Linked DNA regions of Homo sapiens: region 2 is linked to region 1. Evidence: fine-mapped expression QTL. Tissue or cell type: whole blood. Region 1 holds a variant in brackets; the other region holds the start of a gene. All regions are shown on one strand. Distances are from middle to middle.

Region 1 (2,680 bases):
CAGGCAGCCATCCCTATTCTTCTCCTGGATGGTGCACTCCTTACAATAATAGGCATCAGAGACCCCAGGGCCTCCACAGATCACACAGAGCCCCGGTAAGATCCATAGTTACATTCATCACATATGCACACCAGAGTGCAGGGACGCACATAGGAGTCACAGATAACACATTTGCCATCACATTTTTCACACAGTCATCTGATGGCAACACCAGCCTGCTTGCGGCAAAAGATCAAATCAGGATGATGTTTAGCCATAGTTCCCAACTAAGCTGGCCACCACACAATTTTTGTATTTTTAGTAGAGACAGGGTTTCACCATGTTGGCCAGGCTGGTCTCGAACTCCTGACCTCGTGATCTACCCGCCTCACCCTCCGAAAGTGCTGGCATTACAGGTGTGAGCCACCGTGTGGCCCAATTTTTTCATCTGAAGAAATGCTCTAATTTCAAACAACAACAAATGAGAGCCATGGGGGAAAGGTCTAGAAGCTTCAGGAGCTGGGCTACAGTCACCATGAGGTGTGGTGCCTCTTTGGCTGAGTCTCACACAGGGAGGTAACCAGCCTAGCAACATGCACACTAACCATGACCAACCAATTCCCAGCCTGCGAATCAAAGAGTTTTAGGTCATCCAATGCCCTGACTACTCTAAAAAGAATTTCCCAAGGAACTGATCTATCAATAAGTTCACCAGGGCTGGACAGGTTGGCTCATCCCTGTAATCCCAGCACTTTTAGAGGCTGAGAAGGGAGGATTGCTTGAGGACAAGAGTTTAAGACCAGCCTGGGCAACACAGCAAGATCCCATCTCCACAAAAAAATATCCAGGCATGGTGGTGCCCACTTGTAGTCCCAGCTACTCCAGAGGCTGAGGCAGGAGGATCACTTGAGCCCGGGAATTCAAGGGAGCAGTGAGCTATGATCACACCAGTGCCTCCAACCCGCATGACAGAGCGAGATCTTGACTCAAAAAAAGAACGTAAAAAGAGGCTGGG[T/C]GCGGTGGCTCACACCTATAGTCCCAGCACGTTGAGAGGTCGAGGCCGGCGGATCACGAGGTCAGGAGATCGAGACCATCCTGGCTAACACGATGAAACCCCATCTCTACTAAAAATACAAAAAATTAGAGGAGTGTGGTGGTGGGCGCCTGTAGTCCCAACTACTCAGGAGGCGGAGGCAGGAGAATGGCATGAACCCGAACCCAGGAGGTGGAGCTTGCAGCGAGCCGAGATTGCACCACTGCACTCCAGCCTGGGCAACTGAGCGAGACTCTGTCTAAAATAAATAAATAAATAACTAAAGACAAAGAAAAAGAAAGAAAAAAAAGTTCTGGTCAGGCACGGTGGCTCATGCCTGTAAATCCCAGCACTTTGGGAGGCCGAGGCGGGTGGATTACCTGAGGTCAGGAGTTCGAAACCAGCCTGGCCAACGCGGTGAAATCCCATCTCTACTAAAAATACAAAAATTAGTTGGGCATGGTGGCGGGCACCTGTAATCCCAGCTACTTGGGAGGCTGAGGCAGGAGACCCGCTTGAACCCGGGAAGTGGAGGTTGCAGTGAGCCGAGATCGCACGATTGCACTCCAGCCTGGGTGACAGAGCGAGACTCCATCTCAAAAGAAAAAAAGAAGCTCCCTAGTATCTACGGTGTGCCAATCCCACAACAGGGCAGAGATGAACCACAGATCTGCCTTGTGCTTTCTTGATGCTGGTCTTCCAGGAAAGGAGTCAGAGGTCAGAAGACAAACCAGAAAAGTGCAAGCACACAAGACAGTTTCCGTCAGTGGTTAAGCCCTAAGAGGCAGCAAAGAAGTGCTAATTCATAAGAATGTGTATGTGCACTAAGGCCTTAAGCTACAGGCACACTGTTTTAGATACGGCCCCTACCAAAGACCCTCAATCCTTGAGGTAAGCTTTATTGAGATATAATTCACATGCCATATAATTCATCTGCTTAAAGTGAATACTTCAGTGGTTTTTAGTTTATTTCCAAGGTTGTGCGACCACCACCACTAGCTAACATTCTCATCCTCCCTAAAGATACCCCGTCTCTATGAGCAGTCACTCTTTACGCCCCCTCCCTAGCCCCGGGACAACCACGAGTCTTCCTGTCTCTATGGATTTGCCTGATCTGGACTCTTCATATTGATGGAATCACACAGCATGTGATGTGACACTTCACATCTGGCTTCTCCTACCCAGCATCATGTTTTCAAGGTGCACCCATGTTGCAGCCTGTGCCAATACTTCATTCCTCTTTATGGCTGAATAATACTCCATTGCATGGATGGACCACGTTTTGTTTTGTTTTCTTTCTTTTTTTTTTTTTTTTGAGAGAGAGTCTTGCTCTGTCACCTAGGCTGGAGTACAGTGGCGTGATCTCCGCTCACTGCAACCTCCGCCTCCCAGGTGCAAGTGATTCTCGCGCCTCAGCCTCCCGATTAGCTGGGATTACAGGCATATGCCACCACGCCCAGCTAATTTTTATATTTTTAGTAGAGACGGGGTTTCACCATGTTGGCCAGGCTGGTCTCGAACCCCTGACCTCAAATGATCCCCCCACCTTGGCCTCCCAAAGTGCTGGAATTACAGGTGTGAGCCATGGCGCCTGGACACACATTTTGTTTTTCTAGTTATCATGGACATCAGGTTGTTTTCAGATTCCTTAATCTGTATATTTATATA
Region 2 (2,680 bases), 39 kb after region 1:
TCCAGCAAGCCCTGCCGCAGGAACCAGCCCTCAAGTGAAAGTCGGGCTGTGCGGGGACCAGTGTGGAACATGAGGAAGAGGTAGGCCACGCCCGCGAAGAGGTCAGCCGCGGCCAGATTGCCGAGCAGGTAGTAGATGGGCTGGTGGAAGCGGCGGTTGGAGGCGATGGCTGCTATGACCAGCAGATTGGTCAGCAGCACCAGCACGCTGACGGTCAGCCCCAGTGCCACCACGACCACATCCTTGGGCCGCCAGTGGGAGCTGAGCTCTTTGCCACTGTTGTTATAGAAGAAGCCGATGGTCTCGTTGTAGTAGCACTGGCCCATGATGACCATCTGGGGACACAAGAGATCAGTGCATGTGGCACTTCTTGGAAGGACACAGGGAGGGGCGGCAGCTGCAGAGGAGGGTCAGCGCAGGAAGGACAAGGGTCTCAAATTCAGATACCTCGAAGCAAAGTGGCAGTGGTGAGGACTACGGTGGCCTGGAAAAAGCAAGCTCCATGGGGCTGGGGTGGAGGTGGAGGAGCAGCTGTTTCTTACCTACTAATAAGACCTGTGTGCAAGACATCACCCAAGTCAATAGGTTTTTGAACCAGAAGTGAAACAAAACCCATCTATGGTCGAATCCCAGCCCACCTGCCGCCAATGTGTGACCCGGTTTGGGTTGTGGGGAGAGGAGGGTTAGGGAAAGACAAAGGGGTGTGAGCTGCGGGAAGAGATGAGGGAGGATCACTTTGGTGCCGGAGTCAGTGTAGGGAGCAGAGACCCGGGAGCGTGTGCACACAAGGGTGAGGTCACTTGCTAGAACCCTGCGAGGGGGCGGTGCCGAGGCGTGGAGGTGATCGGAGTGGACAGAGAGGCGGCCCCAGAAGTTAGTCGGCGGGATTTGGGCGCGAGTGCTTCCCAAGCGGGCGGGGCAATAGGCTGTTCCGGGTGGGACGGAGGACACTGGCGGTCTCCGGGACAAAGACAGCGGTTGGGGAAGGGATGGATGGCCGGGCCTCCAGGCGTCTCCAGACTGGGGAAGGGGTAGGGGGTTAAGGGATCAGAGGGCGGCGTCCTGGCCCCGCAGGCACGTGCCGCGCCCTTCCCCCGGGCCCAGGCCCGCACCCGCCCGCCTCCCGTCCGTGCAGGCCTCACCTGGGCCTCCAGTCACGCCGCAGACAAGGCGGGCTCGCGGGGGTTCGGGGCGGGCTCGAGGCCCATGGCCCGGCGACTGCGGCGGGAGCGGTAGAGCGTCCGGGTGCGCCCTGTGCGGGTTGCTGAGAGGGCGCGGGAGGCGGGGTCTCCCCGGCGCCCCGCCCCCACCACCTGGGGGAGCCCTGCCCCGCCCCGCCACCTGGGGGAGCCCCGCCTCCACGGCCGCGTCGGGGGCGGTGTCGCCCGGAACCGCAGCCCCCCTGTTTCCTCCCCGCCTCGCGGCCCCTCAGTCGCCCCTATTTCCGGCGCGGGACCCCCACCCCGGTACCTGCACACCTCATGCGCCCGCAGTTTCGAGCCTGCGGGGCTGAGTCACTCGGCGACCCGAAAATTCCCGCCGTGACCCCGCGCTGCCCGGGCGGAGCTCCAGGTGGTCTTGGGTCCGCGCCCCCGCTCCGGACCCCCAACCCTCCCAGCCCCACCCCGCTCTCTTCTTCGTGTCCAATCGGCCGCCGAGTTACAAGCCACTCCCTGATCCGACTTGGCTCCCACCGCCCGGACCCCCGCCCAGCTTCGGCTTTGCCAGCTCGCAGTATCAGCGAGCCGCGGCCTCCTGTGCGAGGCCCACCTCTGCGGCCCCAGCTGATCATCGGGCGCACGCTAGGGTTTTGCAATCCCGCCCCCGTACCCCTCACCCTGGGACAGCGCTGCCCCCTGCAAAGCCCGGCCCTGCCCTGCCCTGCCCTGTGGCTTCCTCCCTCGGCCTCCCTGCGGCGGCCCCGGGCTCCCACGGTCCGGAGCACACAGCCCCATTGTCCCGGTTATCGGTACTTTGTTATACTGTATTTGATTATGCAGGACCGGATCGGGGACGCAGAGCTCCGGGAGGGCCGGGCTGGCGTGACTCAGCCGGGTGCTGCGACCCAGCTCCAACTGCCTTTACGTAGGTGCTGCAGGGTGTTTGATGATGCAAGAAGGAGGCCTTGAGGCCGGGCGCAGTGGCTCACGCCTGTAATCCCTGCATTTTGGGAGGCCGATGCGGGACGATCACGAGATCAGGAGATCGAGACCATCCTGGCCAACATGCTGAAACCCCGTCTCTACTAAAAATACAAAAAAATTAGCCGGGCATGGTGGCAGGCGCCTGTAGTCCCAGCTACTCGGGAGGCTGAGGCAGGAGAATCGCTTGAACCCGGGAGGTGGAGGTTGCAGTGAGCGGAGATCGTGCCACTGCACTCCAACCTGGAGACAGAGCAAAACTCCGTCTCAAAAAAAAAAAAAAAAAAAAAAAAAAAAGAGGCCTTGATTCCCCTAATCTGTAAAATGGGGGCAAGGAGTGCTACCCATGCTGGCCTCTCCCCTAGCAGAGATGCACCCAAGGGCATATAGGACACAGTTTATTAGAGGCCATCAGACCTCAGGCACCACCAGCATGTGGAGTCTGAGCTGCCCACCTCCTCCAGGAAGGTCACTTCGAGTCCGTGAAGGAGGCAGGCAGGTGTGGGGGAGTGACCACAACCAAAGTAGCAAAAGCACCC

What was found. PIP is the estimated chance that this variant, and not a neighbour inherited with it, causes the effect.
Region 2: LPAR2 starts here. The variant in region 1 is fine-mapped to the expression of LPAR2 in whole blood (TOPMed, PIP above 0.99).

What each region holds. Positions count from the first base shown.
Region 1 is chr19:19,588,160-19,590,839 of GRCh38, forward strand. All of the region lies in intron 2 of PBX4 (PBX homeobox 4), which reads right to left. It also overlaps the pseudogene PHF5AP1. Among named protein-coding and RNA genes, the nearest start is that of PBX4, 29 kb to the right of the region's middle. The variant T/C (reference allele first, on the strand shown) is at 995.
Region 2 is chr19:19,626,950-19,629,629 of GRCh38, forward strand. It overlaps LPAR2 (lysophosphatidic acid receptor 2), which reads right to left and starts at 1,271. Exons shown (of 3, transcript NM_001395660.1): 1 at 1,143-1,271; 2 at 1-335. The coding sequence starts at 326. GMIP (GEM interacting protein) reads right to left here. Exons shown (of 21, transcript NM_016573.4): 21 at 2,527-2,680. RefSeq lists silencers at 1,022-1,521, 1,892-2,021 and an enhancer at 1,659-2,581.